Linked DNA regions of Homo sapiens. The protein of the gene in region 1 purifies or fractionates together with the protein of each later gene. This does not show direct contact. Each region holds a gene or a part of one and is shown on either strand. Other genes may lie near its edges.

Region 1 (7,643 bases):
AATAGCTGGACATGGTGGCACATGCCCGCAGTCTCAGCTAGTCGGGAGACTGAGGCAGCAGGATTGCTTGAGCCCAGGAGTTCAAGGCTGTGATGAGCTATGATCCTGCTGCTGCACTCTCCAGGTGGGGTGACAAACCAACCAAGGAACAAAAAATAACTTTATTGGTAAAAAATGCTAACAGTCATTTCAGCCTTTCAGCAAGTCATGCATGTCGTGATGTTGATGGGTGCTGACTGATCAGGGTGGTGGTTGTGTAAGGTTGGGGTGGCTGTGGCAATTTCTTAAAATGAGATGACAATGAAGTTTGCCACACTGATTGATGTCTCCTTTCCTGAAAGATTTTCTCTGAAGCGTGAAATGCTGTTTGATGGCATCTGACCCACAGTAGAACTTCTTTCAAAATTGGAGTCAAAACTGGCCTCAAACCCTGCTGCTGTTTTATCAACCAAGTTTATGTAATATTCTAAATCCTTTGTTGTCATATCAACATTGTTTACAGGATCTTCACCAGGAGTAGGTTCCATCTCAGGAAATCACTTTCTCTGCTCATCCATAAGGAACAACTCCTCACCGCCCCATGGTGAGATTATTATAATGAGATAATTATATTATAATGAGATCATTATAATGAGATTGCAGCAATTCAGTCACATAATCAGGCTCCACTTCTAATTCCAGTTCTCTTGCTATTTCTATCACATCTACAGTTACATCCTCCATTGAAGCCTTGAACACCTCAAAGTCATCCATGAAGGTTGGAATGAACTTCTTCCCAACTCCTGTAACACTGATATTTTGACCTCCTTCCATGAATCACAGATGTTCTTAATGACACTAGAATGGTGACTCCTTTCCAGAAGGTTTCCAATTTACTTTGCCTGGATCCATCAGAGGAATCACTACCTATGGCAGGTAGAGCCTTATGAAATGTATTTCTTAGATAATATGACTTGAAGTTGAAATTACTCCTTGATTTACGGGCTGCAGAATGGATATGGTGTTAGCAGGCATGAAAAAAAAGTCCCAGATAGCATCTTCTTCCAATGGAAGGCTGTCTCATTAACATTGAGAATTTGTTGTTTAGTATAGCCACCTTCATCAATGATCTTAGCTAGATCTTCTGGAAAACTTGCTGCAGCTTCTATGTCGGGACTTGCTGCTTCATCTTGTATTTTGATGTTATGGAGATGGCTGTTTTCTTTAAACCTCATGAACCAACCTTTTCTAGCTTCAAACTTTTTTCTGCAGCTTCTTCATCTCTCTAAGCCTCCATAAAATTGAAAAGAATTAGGGTCTTTCTCTGGTTAGGCTTTCGCTAAGGGGATGTTGTAGATAATTTGATCTACCCAGACCACTAAGACATTCTCTATGTTAGCAGTATGGCTGTTTTGTGTTATCATTAGTGTGTTCACTGGAGTAGCACGTTTACTTTCCATGAAGAACTTTTCCTTTGCATTTATAATTTAACTAGCAAAAGAGGTCTACCTTTTAGCCTGTCTTGGGTTTTGATATGCCTCCCTCACTAAGCTTAATCATTTCTAGCTTCTGATTTAAAATGAGAGATGTGCATCTCTTCCACTTCAACACTTAAGAGGTCACTGTAGTTATTAATTGGCTTAATTTCAGTAATGTTGTATCTCAGGGAGTAGGGAGGCCCAAGAAGTGGGAGAGAAAAGGGAGAAGGAAGAGGGAGCAGTCAGAATAGACACAAAAATTAAGTATGCCATCCTATGGGCACACTCCAAAATGATTACAATAGTAACATCAAAGATCACTGACTGTAGATCACTGTAACAGACAGAATAATAATGAAAAAGTTTGGATACCAAAATGTGAGAAAGAGACATGAAATGAGCACATGCTATTGGAAACACGTTCAGCTGATAGACTCGCTTGATGTAGGGTTGCTAAAAACCTTCAATTTGTTAAGGAAAAAAAAGTGCATTATCTATGAAGTGCAATAAATCAAAGTGTAATAAAATGAGGTACACCTGTACTTTGTCTTCATCGAGCACTTCTCATATTTGCCAAGTTCCCACTGATTGCTGAGTAATAAGAATAAAGTTAAAATATTTTAAATACTGTATCATCACAGCTCAATGGGATGTTGTGCCTAACAGTGACCCAGAATAGAATTATTACATTTCAAAATGCAACTTTCCACTTCTAAACTATACAACTACAGCTACTGTCTGTTAATATACATACAACTCCAGTTAACAGCTTCTATTAGCAAAGTAAAATGTAATTACTTTGCCTGTAAGGTACAGATTAACTTTTTCCCCACAGGTCTATCTTATACTTGAAATGTAGGTGAACACTGAGTCCTGTACCTGTTTCTAATTAGCCTGAATTAGTTGCACGTATTTAGAATACCATGCATGTTTTAATGTCTTACTGTAATTTCTGAAATTTTTATTTTAAAATATTAACTAATTTTAACATGGAATCATATGGAAATCCTTTAACCAAAAGCAGATTACCCTCGCCTTTTTATCTTGAATGTGAAAGCACATTTTTACAATGTTAAATTTTTTAAGTGAGTAAAATTTGTAATTTGCATCAGGTCATTTTACAGATAAAATATAAACTGCACTATTGGCTAGATATCACATGTTCAAATCTATAATTTTAGCAAGTATGTATTAATGTTTTGAATTGTTAAAAAAAAGTCAATCTTTTCAAATAAAGTGATTTTCCAAGGTAATGTCTTATTTAGGGCTTATATTAAATTTAATCCCCGCAATCCTTACTGTATTATGTAGGTCTCTTATTTTATTCTTTCAGAGTTTACAGTAGCTGTCAGAATTGATTAAACCTACTTAACCTATGCTGCATATAATAGAAGAGCTTAGAAGGCATTTGCTTGTTGACTTTCTAGAGAGCCAGAAATGATAACATCTGCTTAGCAGAAAAATGCCTGGGAAAGCTTCACTAGAGGGTCCTTCTCTATCACAACAATGCTCCTGCTCATTCCTCTCATCAAGCAAGGTTAATTATTTATGAATTATCTCTGAAGTTTTGTGGCTGCAATTTATCTTGAACTACCATTTGGGGTTCTATATGAACTATTAACAGTTCTTAAGCTTTTCTGCATAGTGACACATCTGAAAAAGTGTGAACCCATATACAATATAACTATCAGTGAAGTCTCATTCTAGGTAGACTCATGGATTAGTAAGCTTGCAAGTTTTGTTCAGTTCCTCTATCTGTAATTCCGATGTTTTCTGAACCATTGGTACACAAAACACTTACTGATATATTAGGAGATGAGAGACAATAAAAACCACACAGGAACAGCTATAGGTTTATATAACTCACACGAGAGTTATGATTCTACCAGCTTGTGACATGAGCATTAATTCTATTAACAATCCAAATGAATCAAATTGTCTTATTTGCAGAACACAGGAAAGATGTATTTTCTATTCACTTAGAACATGTTCAAGTGTTCACCTAGAAGGCTTTTAACAAAGTAACACATTGAACAGCTATTTTGTATGTGAAGCTCACCAGCATGATGTAGAAAATAAGATTAAAATGCCACCCTTGGCCAGATGTGGTGGCTCATGCCTGTAATCCTGGCACTTTGGGAGGCCAACGTGGGTGGATCGCCTGAGGTCAGGAGTTCGAGATCAGCCTGGCCAACATGGTGAAATCCTGTCTCTACTAAAAATACAAATACAAAAATTAACTGGGTGTGGTAGCGGGCACCTGTAATCCCAGCTATTCAGAAGGCTGAGGCAGGAGAATCGCTTGAACCCAGGGGGCAGAGGTTGCAGTGAGCCAAGATCGTGCCACTGCACACTGGTCTGGGTGACAAAGCAAGACTCCGTCTCAAAAAAAAAAAAAAAAAAAAGCCACCCTTGCTTAGAAGGAACAAACTGTATAAAATCAAGTAGCTGTAATAAATTTTTAACGATAATATATGAAAAACATATAGATTTATATGTATTTTTTGCGACTGGTACGCTATTTTAGTTTTCTTTTTTTTTGTGGTGCCATCATGGCTCACTGCAATATCAGCCTCCCAGATTCACGCGATTCTTGTGCGTCAGCCTCCCAAGTAGCTGGGATTACAGGTGCGTGCCACCAGGCACACCTAATTTTTGTATTTTTAGTAGAGAGGGTTTTCCCCATGTTGGCCAGGCTGGTTTCTAACTCCTGATCTCAAGCGATCTGCCTGCCTTGGCCTCCCAAAGTGCTGGGATTATACAGGTGTGAGCCACCGCGCCTGGCTGTATTTTAGTTTTCTAAATTAAATACAATTGTGATAGAGCAATATAAAATTGAAATTTGATTTGAAGTTTAATTTATTGCTCTGAAATAGAAAAAATAAACCTATTATTACTGTACAAAGGATGAAAGTATAAGAATCTATTCTGGTATACAATTTTCTAAAATGCAATGGAAAATGCAGAACTGTATTTTTATGGCCATTTTCACACAAAGTTGCCAATCAAATTAAATCTACTTCCAAAATAACTATACCTTTATCCAAAACTCTAAAATCAAAAAGCTCTGAGAAGTTTTGCTGTAAGTTTGCAGCAAGCTCACTTGGCATCCAAACCTGATCTGAACTGATTTTTAAATTTCTTTTATTTAGTATATATACTTACACATTTTGCTACATAAATATTAATGTTTTTATTATGGTACACTTCCCCACATTCTGCTAGAAATATTTAAGATACAGTATATTACATTATTACTGTTCGAAACTCCAAAAGATTTCTAAATTTCAAACATATATATCCCCTAGAGTTTTAGATGAGATCGAACTTGTATTAGTTTTATAAAACCTTAAGCCCACAAACTTACCAAATTCTCTTCTTTCCAATGTTATGATTTCAGGATCATCATCATAAATACCTAATTTTAAAAGTATATAAAAATTATAAAATCAAAACTTCACCATATAAATTGCAACATAAAAATAGATTACTCGTTTTAATCATCAAAAAAATCAAACTACTATATTATATCTCAAACTTAGAGAATATGCAACATCCTAAGTGAAAAAAAAGTAAATAATACTATCAGTACATTTAGGGTGATCTAAAGATATTAGAATTCTGATATGGACTCTCATAGATGTGTATGCGGTAGTTCGTAATATTCACATAATTTTACCTCCATATAAAATTTATATTATGGTTTTAAAAATAATTACAGATTCAGGAAGGTGCAAAAATATAGACTCTTGTATACTTTTTACTCACCTTCCTCTAATGGTGACATGTTATGTAGCTATATAGCACAATATCGAAAACCAGGAAATTGAGAGTGGTACACTGTTAACTAGACTACAGACCTCATTTGATTTTCAGATTATATGGTTTTTAACACATGGTATCATGTTAGAATATCTTCTGCTAAAAAGCTTAGAGTATTTGCAGAGGCAGACACAAATATTTAGTAAATATACATTTTTTAGGCTTTGTGGGATGTATGGCTTCTATCACAACTTCTCAACTCTGCTCTTGAAGTGTGAAAGAAGTCACATATATTATGTAAACAAATTAAAGTAATTCCATTCCAATAAAACTTATTTATAAAAGCAAATGGCAAGCCAGATTTGGCCTATGAAATGCAGTCTGCTAACTCTTGATATAGACTATCAAGGTGTAGAGAATATACTTGAAAATACTATTTTGAAAAAAAATCATATTTACTAAAAGCAAATCCTCCAGATATAAATTTAAAATACTTCATTTAGTCTAATACAGAAGCATATTCAGTTCTTAGCCTGCATTTGAGGTTAATTAATGACTAGGAGAAACACTGGGTCTCTGAACACACCTTCCTCCCTTGATACCTGTGTGTTTACAATCTCTCTTCCTTAGTTCCTTTACTTTGTTTCCTCCTTCCACCTTATTTTTTCCTCCATGTTTAAGAAAAAAAACACCTTTCGTCCTTCTCATATGGAACCTTTATTGATAATGTTTCAAGGTATTGACCTTAATGTCAACCGAAGGCCAAAACACCTTAAAAATCAGTAAGGGTTCCATATGAGAAGGACGGCATTTCTATTGAAGAGATCATTACTAAACTTGAAGTTTCGCCTTTCTTGGACAATATGATGCTCTAAAATATATTGAAAGAAATTAATATTATTCAATACTAAAAAATACTGAAAGAAATATTTAGCTACCCCTAATGCAAACATATAGTCATACATCACTTACTAATGGGACACATTCTGAGAAATGTGTTGTTAGGGAATTTTGTTGTTGCAAAAACATCACAGAGTGTACTTACACAAACCTAGATAGTATAGCTTACTACACACCTAGTCTACAAATCTGTACAGCATGTTACTGCTGAATACCATAGGCAACTGTAACACAATGCTAAGTATCTTTGTATTTAAATATAGAAAAGGTACAGTAAAAATATGGTATTATAATTTCATGGGACCAATGTCCTACATACAATCCATTGTTAAGTGAAATGTCATTATGCAGTCCATGAATGCATATTTTTTATTAAATAGCAATCCTTATTTTAAAAGTATTTAACAAGATTTAACCAATACAACTTCATATCTGTACAGATCATCTCTGTATACCAACTGACATTCCTTTTAAATTTCACTCCCACAGCAAATTAAAAGGAGCTAATCAAAGTGACGCATCTTAAATATATAAGCTAAGTGGTGAAACAGAATTCACTTTTCTTTTACTCAGATAAAACACATTTCATAAGTAATATCGTATCACCTTACCAAAATCATAACGATAATAGTTCCAGCTTTCATACTGGCCACCTTGATTATCCTCAAGTCCCTTTTCTCCATATTTGTCATACTTTTTCCGTAGATCTTCATCTTTGAGTACTTCATATGCTCTATTTATTTTTAAAAAATCGCCATGTGCATTTGGGTTATTCTGTTAAAAAATATTAGATATAATACAATTATTTCAGATACACAATCCAAGTTTCTTCAAAACATATATGTAGGTTTAATTAATCTAGTAACTTCTGGGAGACCATATACCAACATAAGGAGGGGTAATACAACATGACATGAGTTACCATGGGTTGAAATGAAGTATTTTTTAAGAAACTATAATCTTCAAAAAAAAAAAAAAAAAAGTAAGAAAAGTAATGAAATAATTGACTCTTCAAAAGGTTGACAGACGTTATCAGACCATGAGTTATTCTTCCTAAAAAATGCAGCTGAAAATAATAAGCCTGTTGAAACTCTTAATTTCATAAATATTTTTTACTCCTATAACAATTATAAATCAATACATTTGTAGGTTATTTTTCTATTTGAGGTAAAATCAACTTAATTAAAAAAGGATGTGCCCCAATCTATCAGCTAATTACATAAAAGCCAGTATCAGAAAACACCCCAAAATCGATCCCAGTACTTTGGGAGACTGAGGAGGGTGGATCATTTGAGGTCAGGAGATCGAGACCAGCCTGGCCAACATGGTGAAGCCCCGTTTCTACTAAAAACACAAAAACTAGCTGGGCAGTAGTGACGCACGCCTGTAATCCCAGCTACTCAGGAGGGTGAGGCAGGGGAATTGCTTAAGCCTGTGATGCAGAAGTTGCAGGAAGCCGCTGGCGTCACTGCACTCCAGTCTGGGCAAGAGAGTGAGACCCTATCTCAAAAAAAAAAAAAAAAA
Region 2 (8,001 bases), on another chromosome or scaffold:
CCCAGGCTGGAGTGCAACGGCGCTATCTCGGCTCACTGCAAGCTCCGTAGCTGGGACTACAAGACTCCGTAGCTGGGACTACAGGCGCCCGCCACCACGCCCGACTAATTTTTTGTATTTTTAGTAGAGACGGGGTTTCACCGTGTTAGCCAGGATGACCTCGATCTCCTGACCTTGAGATCCGCCCGCCTCGGCCCCCCAAGGTGCTGGGATTACAGGCATGAGCCACCGCGCCCGGCCCAAAAGGCCCCATTTTGATGCCTGTGCGTATTCCAGCTGCGGCGGACGCAGTTTTGTATTTGATACCTGCCCTTGGGAAAACACAAGGTATTAACTGCGTGCAACCTCCTGACTTTCTGTTTCCCCTGATCTGGGAAAAGGGATAGGCAGGTTAAGCTCTACACTGTAGAAAGCCTGTGATAGAGCTTTGAACAAATGCTGCAGCCATTGTAATCACCAAACACTATAGTAAGTGCTGGGAATGAATAAAAACACAATCACCGTCCTACAGGAGTTCAGTATTTAATTAAAAAATTTACAGCATCTGCTAGATTGCAGGCTGTTCTAGACCCTGGAGTTCAAGTAGTGCAAAGTTCCTGTCTTCCTGGAACTTACCAACAGTACTGGAGTTTCAACGTTCTATAAACAAAGATGGGTGAGGACATTAGCCCCGGGCTAATTAAAGCGCTCAGGCCCGCTCCAGACCTGAGAATATCAGCTGAATCTGAATCAACTGTTCTCCATTTCTGTCGGTTGGTGGTATCGCGGGGCCACGGCGACCTCCAGCGGCCACCCTCCGTCTTGTGGTCTGTTCTGGGTCCCCGGGAAGGAAAGGGAGGGGCGATAAGCCGGGTCCTTGGGAGCGTCCTGGTCTCCCTTCGCTTTACAGACTAGGAGGCCGCAGCTAGCTGGCAGTCTCAGATCCAGGTTTCCCATCTCTGGGATGAGAGGAGAGTTCTTCACTCAGGACTGCCAGCGCAATGCAGGTCGTGAAGAACTGCAGGGTCGTTTATCGATACAAAGTGAGTGTTGGAGGAACCCATCAAGACACAGGAAGGGGGAAATCCTAGCGCCGCCAGTCGGAGATGACCAAGACTGAACCTCAGGCCCAGCCCTCCCTTCTCTCTTAGCCTGCAGGTTTTTCTCCTATTCTGGCGTTGGGACCGGATGACAGCTGCGAAACCAAAACGGGAATGGATAAACTGAGGTGCCACTGGGGACCTGTTTCAGAAGTACCTCCTGGGCGGGGCCATCACCGGAAGTGGCTTTAGGCATGTAACCTACAATGCCCGCCTCTAATTGCGCTACCAGTAGGCGACGAGCCGCCTCCACTTCCGGTCCCCAGAGCAGTGGCCAGCAGCCCCCTCTTTACTGCTCTCCTATTGGCTGCCGCAAGGACGCGCTGTGATTTCCCATTGGTCGCGTCTCCCCTCCGGCGCCGCGCCTCCTTCCTCCAGGTATAGTCTCGTCTTTAGGCATCCGATTGGCTAAAGGCTGGGAGGGCGTTTGCCCGACTCGACCAATGAGTGGGGTCGAGAGTGAGGGCGGTGGCTGCGTGATGGGGGCAGGGCGGGACTTGGCGTGGCCATTGGCCAGGGCGGGTACAGGCTAGAGATATGATTGGTTCAGGAGAGGGGCACTGTGGTGGGGTCGGGACTGCGCGGCCTCAGCAGCTGCGGGAGACGGAAGTGGCAAGAGCGCGGCCTCAGAGGGTCGGGCGGACGCCGCCTGGGTGAGTCACCGTGCCCCCTGCACTGCAAGCCTGGGAACCGCAACGACCGCGTCTTGCCCGGCTCCGCCCTGGCCCCCACCGGCTTTCCTGAGTCCCGCCTTCTGTCATTTGGGGCTCCGCCTCCCAGTCTTTAGGCTCCGCCCCTAGAACCTGGGCACCTGGGCTCCCCTGCCAACCTGGCCCGCCCCCTGGGACCAGATCCCCTAGGTCTGAAAACCCTGGGCCTCCCAGGCCTGATCCTTGTCCCTCCTTCCCTCCCTTCCTTCCCTGGGGCTGCTGCCAGTGGGCGGTGAGGCAGCACCTCTGGCTTGCCTCTTGCCGGTTCCCCCATGAGGGAGAATGGCCTAGGGAAGAGGATACTGTGAACAGGGAGGTGGGCAGTACCACAGATGGAGGCTTTTATCCCCGCAGCCTCCCGCAGGGCTCTGCTGCACTGCCTGAGGAAAGCAGGCATGAAGGAAAGTGTCAGTGAAACCTAGGCCTGGCTCCCTAAGTGAGCCTAGGAGGCCCTATCCTGAAATCCCTGTTACTTGGGCTCATTGGACAGATGCTGACTCCAAGGCCTGGATTGGCCTGATTCTGTCCCTGTTGTGTGGCCTCCTCTCCATAACCTCCACCCCACTTGGTGTCAAATACACTCAGGAGGACCTGTGCAGCCCTGCTGCCCTCTGATCACAGGTTGTGGTCCCCTCCCTCTTGTCCCACTCTGGACTCTGCCCCCAGTAAACAGGTCAGGTGGGTACTACTCCCAGACTCAGAGACTGGCAAAACATTCCTGTGGATTCATGCTCCTTCAACTACTGCCACTTCACCCCAAGAGTCAGGGCCTAAAATGAGCCCCAGTTGGGCAGCCTGTGTCTCTTCATAGTTGGCAGTTCTGCTCCCTGAGAAAGAAGTGTTCTCCCTCTGCGTCTGGAAATCAGGACTCCTGAATTCTGCTGAATAATCTTGGATGACACTCATTCCTGTTTCAGAACTTCGTGGCTGACTTCATGCCCTGCAGGATCACTTGTTGCTTTCTCCTCATGTAGCTCCCATTGCCTCTCTCTGGCATGGTGACTTGTGGAGAGACTGGAGTCTCTGTGAGGGAGAAGAATAAGAGTTGTAGAGAAGGTCAGGGGTAGATGTGTGTCATTTGTTGATTCTATGGTAATGTTAATGGGGTCCTTTACTTTTATGTTCCTCTGTCTCCTTACAGTGAGAAGCAGGCAGCCAGTACCCTTGCCACGGTAGAATGGTGAGTACCCTGTCTTTCCTCAGGCCATTGTGTTTTCTGTAATCCATGTGTCTTTCTCTGTGAAGCTGCCCCACCTGTCCTAGACCTTGAGCTCCAGGCTACCCTGTTCAGCTCCTAAACATGTTCATCTGCCCTGGAGATAAATTAGGGTTTCTTTAGATTGCAAAACATCAGCCAGTATACAGCACTGGGACTGGAAGCTTCTAGAAATCATTTTCTGCATGTGCTAGGCCCCACACTTTCCTCCTACTCCCTACCCACCACTGGTTCTATTAACCCTTCATAACAGCCCTCTTCTTGCTTTTCTTGGGTCCCCGGTAGAATCTCTGTGTTCTGGTCTGAAAAGCTGGGCCTTCTTTATCTCAAGATCTTTGGACTTCTGGTGGGTCCTTTGAATATTGTGGATGCTATATCAGGAGTGACTCCACCAAAACTGTGGGGCTTCTCTAGTTCCAGGGTGCTGCTGTTAAGCCACTACAGGTGACAGCTGATTGAATATCTATCAGGATAGCATCTTCAGGGTGCCCAGAATATCACCAGAGGTGGTTTACAATGATCCTATTAATTTTCCATTAACTGTAACAGCCCTTCTCTCACCCCAAGTCCAGGGAAGCCCTTAACTCCTAAGAGCTAGGAGGAGGCAGTGAGATGGGAAAGGCCTAGAGAGCTGTAGGCCCTGGCCCAGACCAGGCCCTTAACCTGGTAGTATCTCTTCGGTGTCTTTTAGGTGTCCCTTGTGCTTAGGGGCAGGTTAAAGAATTCAGTAGATGAGAGGATTTCCTCCTTCCCTCCCTTCCTTCCATAGACATGTGGATTTGGTGTGTGCACTATTGGTTCAGTCTCTTCTCAGAAAGCCTGCTGGTTTTGGCCCCCACCAACAGATAGCTCCTCTTTTTCTCTTCTGGGCTACCCTGAAAAGAGCATGGGCTTCACAGTCAGCTTCATCTAATTTCAAATCCTAGCACCACCACTTAGTTAAATTACATACTTTCTCTCTAAGCTTGAGTCTCACGAGTAAGACAGGATAAGGTTTACTTCTTGGGGCTTGAAAAGTTTTACTGAGATAATGTTAGAAACTGCCTGGCTCATTGTAGATGCTTAATAAAATGTCAGGTTTTCTTTTATTACTCCCTTCTCCCCCAAACAAGACAAAAGCCCTGGTGTCTGAAAGTTACAAGGTGCAGGAAGTTTGGGGTTCCAGCCACCTCCCTCTGTGACTCTTGGTGACATTTTGAGCCCCTTATTCCTGGTCCTTATTCCTTGGCCCTCTACCCAACTCTCTCTACTCCGCTGCTCCTGGGTTTCAAGTTTCGTTTTTTTGTATAGCTTCTGTGGTCGATACTTCTAGCTCTTCACTTTCCCAGACTAAGAAATCCTTTCTCCTCCAAGAAGGGCTTTCTTACCCAGAGATCAGAATGTGAAACAAGGGAGAGATGGAGCTGAAGGAGTAGGGTTGGGTAGGGGCGTTGGAATAAAAAGCTCATTTCCCTTTCCAGGAGCGTGGAATGACTAACCTGGCACCATTCTAAGGGGAAAGAAAGGTTTAACGAAGTCACGGGATTGAAGGACCCTGATGGGCAGGGGCATGGTGGGTAGTGGTTTTGGAGGGAAAGGAGGAAGCAAATGGGGTGCGGGTAGGTGAGCTCCACCTTGGGATCCAGAGCAGGCGTCGGGGGAACTTAGGGGAGGGGGCGCGGGGATGGGTTTGTAAGAGGGCATGGGGTGGCTCACCTTAGAAGAAGGGAAATGAGAAGATGTGGGCGGTCCCGTAGCCCAGATTCCTGAAAGCTCCTAAAGGTCCCTGGAGTAGGGTACGCCCTCCTACGAGGCCCAGGGTCCGCGGGGAGGGAGGAGGCTGGGCTTGTGGGCGGGGCCCGCGGAGCCGCCCCGCCTCTACCTCCGCCTTCCCGCCGCGGTCCCGGGCTCTCCCCTCGCCTGGCTCCCCTCCCTTCTGCACTCGTGCGGGAGGGCGGAGCTGGGCCCGCTCCATTGTGGAGAGGAGGGGAGAGGCGCGCGGGAGCCGCGCGGAGGCCCGGCCACCAGCGCCCTAGCCTCTTGGCCGCCGCGGCTGCACCTGGCGAGCCCCGCAGCCGGGATGCGGCGGGCGCCCGGGGCTGGCGGGCAGCGCAGCGGCTCCGGGGACATGTGCGCTGGCCCAGACCGCCCGCGACCATGAGCCTGACCGCCCGCGTCTCCTGCTCCATGCTTAGCTGCTTCGTAAGTGCCCACCCTGCCTTTGGGGGCCTAGGAGGCACCCGCAGCCCCGCCCAGGGTCAGCCCTCGATTTCAGCCCATCCCCCTTCCCGAGGCCCCTGGCCCGGCCCCGAACGTTTGGGGGGCAGGGAAGGTGGGTTAACCCTTTTATTTCTTGGACTTGCTTCAATCTTTGGGTGCCGGAGATGGTCGAAGGCCAGGAATGGAAATTCTGTGGTCCATCCTGGCCCCGCAGCCACTGCCCTTGACTGCAGATCTCTAGGCCCCGCCCTGCAGGGGTACATCCCTTTACCTCCGCCTCTCCCTCTTGGTCCCACCCGCTGAATCCTTGCTTGGGGATGTGGGATGTGGCTAGTAGGCTGAATGGGATGTTAGGAGGTTGGTCGGGGAGCACGGGATGTCTTTGAGCTGGCTTGGGGCTCCAGTCCCTTCCCTCTTCCACCATTCCATCCCTCACCTGGCATGCCAGCCTTTTCTCCTTGACTGTCCCCCAGACAGCCTCTCTTCTCCATCTTCCCTGCCTCTGCAGGGTTCCGTACCTCTGCATCATTCCCGGTCCTCCCCTCCTCCCGCTCTGGCTGATGCTCCTTCCCAGCTTCCCCCATCTGTCCTCTCAGCTGTCCCCCCACCTTCCCCGTGGGTGTCTGCCGGGCCTCCTCTCTCTCTCTCCCCTGGCTGTCCTTGGGTCTCCTGGCTCCTCCCAGGCGCGTGGATCCCCCCGGGTCCCCTCCCTGGTGGTTGGGAGGGGAGTTCCTTTTGCTTGCTGTGGGTATTCCTCAGGAATTCCCCTCTGATTAGCAGGCAGAGCAGGTTACTTGGCAGGTAATGGGGGCTTGTCAGCAATGTGGGTCTAACAAGAAGATAAGCCCAGCTCTCAAACACGTCTTCCTTTTGAAAGCGTCGGTGAAGGCCCTCTAGAGGCGTGGGACTGAATCCCCCCACCCACTCCTCTTTGTCTCCTTCACCCACCAGATTGAAGCTTCAGTGGCTTGTAGGCGCCTGATTTCCCTTCTCTCTGAAACCAGCTGCCATACCTGGCTCCTTTTCCTCAGGACAGCACTTTCCCATCCCCACTCCTGCCTTACCCTTATGCGGGTCTAAGGGAAAGAGTCTTTCTTTTCCTTAGTTTTCTCTCCTCCATTTTTGAAATGTTGGTTCTATAGGAGAGTCCCTCTTTGAAGAGTGCAGATTCCCAATTCCTCCTGGGGCCTCACTCTTTCCTTAGGCTTAATAGGCTGATATGCTCTCCATTTCACCCTTCCCTGTCTCCAACCAAGTCAGATCTCTTTTCCCTTCTCTGGTGACCAGAACCTTTAGAGGTGTGTGTGTGTGGGTATCTGTGGATTTCTTGGTGGGGAGAGGAGCAGAATGAGCCTGATGGGCTAAGTGGAGCTTGGTGACTTAGGACTGTGGCCTTCCTACAGGGTGAGGAGGGGCCCCCCAGCCTGGAGTACATCCAAGCCAAGGATCTGTTCCCCCCCAAGGAACTAGTGAAGGAGGAAGAGAATCTTCAGGTAAGGAGGAGTTGGGGGCCAGGATAGATGGGGCTCCCTGCCCAGTTAAAAAACACCCTCCCTTCTCCCAAAAATCCTCAAGGGCATCTGGTACCAGAGCTCTGGCTTCATGTTCCCTGGTCTCTGGAGGAGGAGGGTTTGTCTGCGCATCCTGGAGCCTTTGGCCGCAGGGAAGGAAAGGCAGCTTTCCTGTACAGCTGTTGCCTGGTGCTGTTACCGTGGAGAGAACTCTCCTCTCTTGCCTTGGCCCACCTTTTCCAGAGGGGATCCCACAGATCAGGGGCTGTAGAAGAGGATAAGGTGGTCACTCACTTCTGGACTGAAGGTTTCTCTGCCCCTTGACAGGTCCCCTTCACAGTGCTGCAGGGTGAGGGAGTAGAGTTCCTGGGCCGGGCAGCCGATGCCCTCATTGCCATCTCTAACTACCGGCTGCATATCAAATTCAAGGACTCTGTCATCAACGTGAGTTTCTGTATTGTTCTCCTACCCCTAAGCTAGAATCCCTATGAAGTTCAAGGTGGGATTGTTCCAAGGCTGTCCTTGATCATGTCATTAAAAAAGTTGGAGGCCGGGCGCAGTGGCTCACGCCTGTAATCCCAGCACTTTGGGAGGCCGAGGCGGGTGGATCACTTGAGGTCAGGAGTTCGAGACCAGCCTGGCCAACATGGTGAAACTGTGTCTCTACTAACAATACAAAAATTAGTCGGGCTTGGTGGTGCGCACCTGTAATCCCACCTACTCGGGGGCTGAGGTACGGGAATCACTTGAACCTGGGAGGTGGAGGTTGCAGTGAGCCGAGATTGTGCCACTGCTGTCCAGCTTGGGTGACAGGGTGAGACTACCTCTCAAAAAAATAAAAAAAAAAAAGTTGGGGATCCCTTCTGTTTCTCTCTGACCTCATGTTTTCCTGCCTCATTTTCCTAGCTCTGTTTCTGGCTCATTCTCCTTTCTCCTCTTCTCTCTTTCCATTATTCTATTACTGGCCCTTCTAAGGAGCACAGTGGCATTGTTGGAAGAACACAGGCTTTGGAGTCAGGCAAACCTGGGCTCTTTTCCTGCGTTGCCACTCACCAGCTGGGTGACCTTGGTCAAGTCACCTAACTGAGGCTTGATTTTTCTCCTCGTAATATGGGCTGAAAGCACCTGCTGTGCAACGTTATTGGGATCATTAATTGGGATCACATATGCAGAGGACTCCGTACAGTTACCAGGTGCTTAACAGACCCTCAGTAAATGTTGGTTTCCTTCCTGCTATTGATACATTAGTGCCTACGCTAGGGTGAGGGTGAGGAGTGGTACCCAGT
Region 3 (7,643 bases), on another chromosome or scaffold:
AGATTGACGATGCATTTCAAAACCCAAGAGTTTTTCACAGACTTTAACCCAGTACTGCCATTCCTGGGAATTTATCCAAAAAAAGATGATTTTAAAAAGAAAAAGTGGCCAGGCATGATGGCTCACACTTACAATCCCAGCACTTTGGGAAGCCGAGGCAGGTGGATCGCTTGAGCTCAGGAGTTCGAGACCAGCCTGGGCAACATGGTGAAACTCTGTCTCTACCAAAAATACAAAAAATTTGCTGGGTGCGATGGCAGGTGCCTGTAGTGCCAGCTACTCAGGAGGCTGAGATGGGGGGTTCACTTGATCCCAGGGATCACTTGAGCCTGGGAGGAAGAGGTTGCAGTGAGCAGAGACTGTGCCACTGCCGTCCAGCCTGGGTGATGGAGGGAGACCCTGTCTCAAAAGACAAAAAAAAAAAGAAAAGGGAAAAGATAATTTTTTTTAATAATAAAAACAACAACAAAAGTGGTCATTATGAATGCAAGGCAACAACCTGGAAACAAATGATCTGCCAAATGTCAGGCAGAATCAAAATATATGTTTATATTATAATGAAAAATATATAGAAGTTACACAGGCCAGGCTGAAAGGGTCTATGGAAACCTAAAAAGTTGACAATCGGGAGTGACACTGGTCAACTATTTGGTGATAGGCTGACAATTTGAGTGACTTCTTTATTTCTATTGCTGTTGTTAAATACAACAAATGTATACATAAATTTCAGAACTTAAGACAGTTACATGAGTTAAAATAACACCTAGGCTGGGCACAGTGGCTTACACCTGTAATTCCAGTACTTTGTGAGGCCAAGGTGGGAGAATTGCTTGCGCTCAGGAGTTTGAGACTAGTCAGGCAACATAGTGAGACCCTGTCTCTACATAAAATAAACAAAATTAGCTGGACATGGTGGCACAAGCCGGTCGTCTCAGCTACTTGGGAGGCTGAGGTGGGAGGATCACTGAACCCGGCAAGTGGAGGCCGCAGTGAGCCAAGATCACACCACTGAACTCCAGCCTAGGTGACACAGTGAGACCCTAACTCAAAATAAATAAATAAATAAAATAACACCTTGAGTTAGCAAAATACTGATAATTAGTGAAGACAAATGATGAGTACATAGGGGTCATTATTCATCATACTTTCTCTCTACTATATTATGAAATTTTCCATAATAATTTTTAAGTAACATCTTCACCAAACATTCTAAAGGGAAAAAACCCCACCTCACACAGGTTTAATCTGGACTTTCAATCTACTACCACAGGCCCAGATTTTTTAAAAGGAAAAAGCTGCTCCATCAGTAACTCTAAATTCCTATATTTAGAACCTTACATTGAAGCAATAAAATCTGCCTCAGAGGCAGTTCTTTTTACGGCATTTCCATTAACAATAATTTTCAAGTGGAATATGCCAGGGGATCCGAATCAGAAGGGAGCCCTCAAACACAAAAGCTTAATGCTTTTCCATCAGACCATGCAGCCTCTCTGCAAAGGGTCACATAAAGAAATTAGATAGAGCTGACACAATTCTTGCTGAGTTGTCAATTGAGTTGAAGAGTAAAAAGGGGGCAGAGCCCAGAGAAGATGAAAGGAAAAGGGGACCAAGCAGTGTGCAGTCCCAATGGCGAGGAAAGGTGCCACACCTAGTAATCCTGTATCATTGCTCCGGAGGTTCCAAAGGGCTTTCACTGCTCGTCTGGCCACCCACTCAAATGTGGAGTCCCCCAGGAGTCGACTCAGAATCCCAAATTCCACCAGGAGGGAACCGGCTCCCGCTGTGCATGTCTCATTATTGGTGTCAGGAGGAACTCCTGTCTTTAGATTCACCTGGGGATGGGAACAGACAAAGACTGTGACAAAACTCAAGGAATCCACAGAGCTGAAAAGCCGGGTCTCAGAGACTACACTCAGCTAATAAACCAAGCTTACCACGGTGAGAGTCTGCCCTCTGCCTTCCAAGATACATCTGAGGTGAATACGGGAATTAAATTTAAAAGACACAAACAAGACAATAAGAACAGCAGAGCCTTGCTTTATTAATAAGAGCAAGTCTTCAGGGAATGGCTATAACACTTCACTAAACCTTCTCTTTCCAGCAGGTTTTCTTCATGGTAACACAGGCACCAGGCTTTAGGGTTAGAGACAAAGGCAAACTATAGAATTTCTTCTAAATTTTAAATGAACCACTATGAACTCACTCCTGCTCAGCACCTAAACAAACCTCAAACTGGGCAAGAAAGGAGGCACTACCAGAATATGACAGCCAGTTTCATCATGAAGGCTCTGTGCTCTGGCAGTTCTCAGTCAGTTACCTAAAAGGCTGACTCAATTCCCAGAGGAGTTCTGGGCTTGGCAAATCAGATGTCACAAATATATAATCTAATTCCAGATCCTGGCATTTAAATCAGCAGCTAACTTGCTGGTCTGTGCAGCCTTTATTTGAAAGATCCACGTGAAGCATTGAAAAGAACACTCACTGAGCTCCCGCAATACCCATGTGAGGATCTCTGGGAAAACAGACCCAAGTCAGAGATGAAGACAAACTCCCCACACTGCTTTGTAGCAGAGAATATAAATCACACATGTAAATGGACTTAAGAATACTGAACTTCACAGAACATCTACTCTTTAAGGGGAAGGAATAAGTCAGATATATCACTGTTTGCCTTTCATACAGTGGATGTTCAGTAAATGCTGAATGAATTTTAAAATATTTACATCATATTTAAGGCCAAATTCTTCTAAGGACACTGCTTTTCTCATCTACCTCCATCCCATTCCTTCTCCCAAATAAATTAGTAAGCAAAGAATTTTAATTCAGGAAGATAGTGAATTGTCAAACACAAAGGGTCAAACCAGTCTACCCACCCGAGGATATGGAATCCCTGTCTTGGTGTTTTCAAAAGCAGGGAGGAGCCGCACCGCCAGGTCATGGGCCATGTATAACAACTCATTATCATAGTCCTTAATTGTCATGTCACCAAAGGGCTGCTTGGAGTCAGTTATTATTCTGTGAGCAGAAAGGAGGCTTCCCAGGACCCTAATGACAGGAAGAACAAAAAGATAATACAATCGTGTTGCTTGTAAATGCACATAATCCAATTCAGAAAGATAGAAGTATGTTCATATCCACATAGACTCAGAACTGCCTGACGTCAGAGAGACCTGACTTAATGGACTCTTGAATTCCTTTCTAGCTCTAAGAATACACGATTGATTTTTGTTAACCATATTACTAAAAGAGAGAAAGGGAATCATTTATTCGAGACTACCAAAAACAATGCTATTTAAAATAGTAACAATTTTGGTAATCTAAATCTTAGGGCATTAAGAAAAGGGAGTTGGCTGGGTGCGGTGGCTCACGCCTGTAGTCCCAGCACTTTGCCAAGAGAGATGCATCTCTTGAGGCCAGGAGTTCAAGACTAGCCTGGGCAACAAGGCAAGACCCTGTCTCTATTAAAAATAAAAAAAATTAGCCGCATGTAGTGGCACACACCAGTAGTCCTAGTAGCTACTTGGGAGGCTGAGGCAGGACGATCTCTTGAACCTAGAAATTGAAGACTGCTACAATCATGCCACTACACTTTAGCCTGTGTAACAGAGCAGGACCCTGTCTCTTAAAAAAAAAAATAAGAGTGTACTAACTGTTCTCAGAATAAATATTACCTATTAGTATTATTAAATTACTCCTGATTTATTTCACTTGGGGAAAACACTCATAAAAAAACAGAAGCTGGGCATGGTGACATTTGCCTGTAGTCCCAGCTATTTGGGAGGCTGAGGTGGGAGGATCGCTTGAGCCCAGGAGTTCAAGGCTGCAGTGAGCCGTGATAGCACCACTGCACTTCAGCCTGGGCAACAGAGCAAGACCCTGCTCTAAAATGAAAAAAAAAATTTAATTTAATTCAAATTAAAAAAAAAAAAACAGAGAAAGGTAAGACAACAAATACTAAGTAATTTTTGTTGTTTTGGCTGCCAAGCAACTTCCCTAACACCGTAACATCTGGTAAAGAGGCAAGGTGAAGAGGAGGAGGAAAAAATGACCTACTAAGAGGCAGCAGGCTACCAGCTTATACCTAAGTCCTTGTAGACCCATAAAGTCCCATTCTAAAGATCTGAAGTAGGCTGTGATATATGTCAGAACAAAGGTTTTCACCAATTTAATTTTAAATAAGTATTACATCTGTGAACTGGAATGTTATGCAGTTGATACAATTTTCAAAAGATGTAAACAGGAAAATAACCACAATGTATCAAAAAAAGCAATATACAATATACTAGGTATACAGCATGATCCCAATCCACTAAACAAATAGAGAAAAAGAGAGAGACAGAGAGAGAAATAGAAGTGAGAGATATACCTAACAAAGAAATATACTAAAATGGTAAGCAGTGATTTTCTGTGGGTGGTAAGATGGGAAACTCTCATTTCCTTCAGAAATATGTAGGGGTTGTCCTAGGACACGGTGAAAGAAGAAAATGAAATCAGACTATAAAGGGAAACCATGAAATTCTGTACTAGACAGACACCTATTTTACACCCCCGTTAAAACATAAATGTACCCAGGCATGGTGGCTCATGCCTGTTATCCCAGCACTTTGGGAGGCCAAGGCAGGCGGATCACTTGAGGTCAGGAGTTCGAGACCAGCCTGGCCAACATGGTGAAATCTCATCTCTACTGAAAATACAAAACTTAGGTGTGGTGGTGAGTGCCTGTAATCCCAGCTACTCTGGAGGCTGAGATATGAGAATGCCTTGAACCTGGGAGGTGGAGATTGCAGTGAGCCAAGATTGCACCACTGCCCTCCAGCCTAGGTGGCAGAGACTCCATTTCAAAAAAAAAAAAAAAAAGAGTTTAATCTATAAAAACAAAACAAAATACAAACGTGTCTTTCCCTTCAGTCCGGAATGTGATTACTTTGAAATAATTGTTCCAGTTTTGACAGATATGAACATGAAAAATGCACACTGCACCCATAAAGCCCATATGGACTCCCTGCCTGGATCATGTGGCAAAAAGACCCTCAAAGGTATTTTTTTCTTTAAACACATAAAAAGAAGTCTCCAATTCATTTTATGAATATTCATTATTTTACCTTATCGTGGCCTCAAAGACTTGGACGGTGGAATCTTTGTCAAATGAAACTGTGTTGATCACTAACTTGACGGCTTTCTGGAACTCGGATGAATTTCCCATTATCTTTAAAAAGAGGAACACAGGTCATTACAGCAACTTGAAATGAAACTGAGGCTGTATCATCACAGCAGCCCAGTCACGTCACCTAAATGTCTGTATGTGGTTTTGCTACCATAGGAGTAGAAACACAAGAGACAGAAAAGCAGTTATTTCTTAGCATATATTCCCAGCACATGGCTGGCCCATTTCCTCCAACTCAAGAGTCCTGTCTCCAAAGGACAAAACTGTGAAAATAATTCCTTGTAAAATCATTGGCACTCCTCATCTTCCCAACTCCACTCTCCAGCAAACTTCACTATGATCTTATTTAACATGCCAGGCATTGTGGTTTCTAAAACTTCTGGCAGGTATACAAATAAATCAGAAAACTGAAGAAACAAAAATATGTCTTTCTCTCTGCTCCTCAAATAAATCAGCAGCTTGGGTGCTTGGCTCCCAGGAGACCAAAACATGTGGAAAACTGAATGAACTTGTTGATTGTTATCCAGATGCCTAAACACTTTGAGAAATAGTGGTAATATCTTTTGGAGCACAGGATAAAACCAGTGACTGATTTAAAAGAAACAAAACATATGAATAATCAGCTCTATGTCCTTTTTAAAAAGTGATCTAGAATTATGATTCCTATTTTGGGTATGTAGATACGACGTCACACTAAGCCACTCTCTCCTATGTGAAGCACAGTTGGGCATCAAACTTTATAGATTAACCTGAATCAAAATTATTTCATTCCACTCTAAATTTTATGACAACCCTGAGACTATAATGACATCATAAGGACATACTGTGATAGAAAAATAAATTTCTGGGACCCCAAAATCACTAAGCCAAAGGGAAAAGTCAAGCTAGGAACTGCATCAGGCAAACCTGCCTCCCATTTTATTCCTAAATAAGATAGCTACAAAGATTCAAAAAAAAAAAAAAAAAAAAAAGCTATATACGTCCCTTACAATTTACCTACAAGGAAATTCCTTGTGGGCCTCAAGATCTTCCCCTCAAAACAATTCTGCTGAATTTCACCCAGGCAATGTAAATTGACAGTTTATCTTCACAGGTACAAACAAAGGACAGAACTCAGTCATCCCTCTGCTCACCTAAGAAAAATGCATATCTGATTGCTTCCTCTGCCCTACTGTTTATGTAAAACTGCAGATTCACTAAGCCAGACAAAGGCATAAGTGACTATTCCTCTACCTTTGTCACAGGTAAACTGTATATTCCGTGAAAGGCTAATCAGAGAGTCAACCGGCTGGACACGGTGGCTCAGGTCTGTAAGCCCATACTTAGGGAGGCCAAAGCGAGCGGATCACTTCAGGCCAAGAGTTCAAAACCAGCCTGGCCAACATGGCAAAACCTTGTCTCTACTAAAAATACAAAAAATTAGCCAGGCGTGGTGGCGCATGCCTGTAATCCCAGCTACTCGGGAGGCTGAGGCACAAGAACTGCTTGAACCCCTGGGAAGGTGGAGGGTGCAGTGAGCCGAGATCTCACCACTGCACTCCAGCCTGGGCAACACAGCAAGACTCTGTCTCAAAAAAAAAAGACAAAAAAAATGTAACCATTTGTCTTTTATCTGCCTGTGACTTGGAAGTGCCCCCTCACCCCACCCCCAGCACTTCAAGTTGTCTCACTTTTCTGGACTGAACCAATGTACATCTTACACATACTGATTGATGTCTCATGTCTCCCTACAATGTATAAAACCAAGCTGTGCCTAACTACATTTTTTCCACCTCATCGTTATTTTGCTGTAACCTACAGAGTAAGTACAGACATTTCTAGCTTTCAGTTCTTTCTTTTTAGAAGATGATGCAATAATGCTGCAAGTTGCATCCAATGGTCAGGGGACTGCTATCTTCACAGTGTTTCCCTAGCACATCTGTTAAAGCCTGTTTAAATGTTAGCAAAAGAAAAGGAAAACTTCAACAGAAGTAACACCTGAAAAATAAGCCTGAAGCACTAAAGGCCGGATATTCTACAATGAAAACCACAGAGATGAGTCTGTTTCCTTACAGATGTTTACCAGCAACAATATCTGGTGAAGCTGCAGGTGCTGACAGGAGCTCAAATCAAGTGAGGAAGGTGAAGGAAGTCAACAGCTCTTACTTATTGTAGTTTATCATTATGGTCAGATAGCTATAGAATCCTGAGTGACTATGTTCTGAAATCACACTAATGTTTGAAAATGGCTGAATGGGACAGAGGAGCTAAATGGGTTTGTTTGTTTGACTGTAGGACTTCTCAGAGTCTTTAAAATGCTGATGGGCACTGTGGCTCTCTAATAGTGGGACCAGACATACGGAATTTCTCAAGTTCATTTAGAAACAGAACTCTTCTTTCAGGGAGTAAGTATCTTTGGAATCTGTGTTGGGAAATGCTTCATTAGTCAGAATTCATTTTTTGAACAAACATTTGCACTGCTACTGTGCACCAGACACCA

Evidence for each region. Proteins that work in one complex are often made in the same cells at the same time.
Region 2: the proteins of DNAJC10 (region 1) and MTMR4 purify together in Homo sapiens (affinity purification with mass spectrometry; 4 studies listed by BioGRID and IntAct, with this or other methods). This does not show direct contact.
Region 3: the proteins of DNAJC10 (region 1) and EDEM1 purify together in Homo sapiens (affinity purification with western blotting; 2 studies listed by BioGRID, with this or other methods). This does not show direct contact.

What each region holds. Positions count from the first base shown.
Region 1 is NC_000002.12:182,719,257-182,726,899, reverse strand, and holds part of DNAJC10 (dnaJ homolog subfamily C member 10 isoform 1 precursor), read right to left. Parts: intron 6,894-7,643; coding exon 6,731-6,893; intron 4,876-6,730; coding exon 4,825-4,875; intron 1-4,824. UniProt on the Homo sapiens protein: Endoplasmic reticulum disulfide reductase involved both in the correct folding of proteins and degradation of misfolded proteins.
Region 2 is NC_000017.11:58,511,548-58,519,548, reverse strand, and holds the start of MTMR4 (phosphatidylinositol-3,5-bisphosphate 3-phosphatase MTMR4), read left to right. Parts: upstream 1-4,910; 5' UTR 4,911-5,141; coding exon 5,142-5,186; intron 5,187-6,607; coding exon 6,608-6,697; intron 6,698-7,042; coding exon 7,043-7,159; intron 7,160-8,001. UniProt on the Homo sapiens protein: Lipid phosphatase that specifically dephosphorylates the D-3 position of phosphatidylinositol 3-phosphate and phosphatidylinositol 3,5-bisphosphate, generating phosphatidylinositol and phosphatidylinositol 5-phosphate.
Region 3 is NC_000003.12:5,197,155-5,204,797, reverse strand, and holds part of EDEM1 (ER degradation-enhancing alpha-mannosidase-like protein 1), read right to left. Parts: intron 5,207-7,643; coding exon 5,103-5,206; intron 3,046-5,102; coding exon 2,874-3,045; intron 1,833-2,873; coding exon 1,649-1,832; intron 1-1,648. UniProt on the Homo sapiens protein: Extracts misfolded glycoproteins, but not glycoproteins undergoing productive folding, from the calnexin cycle.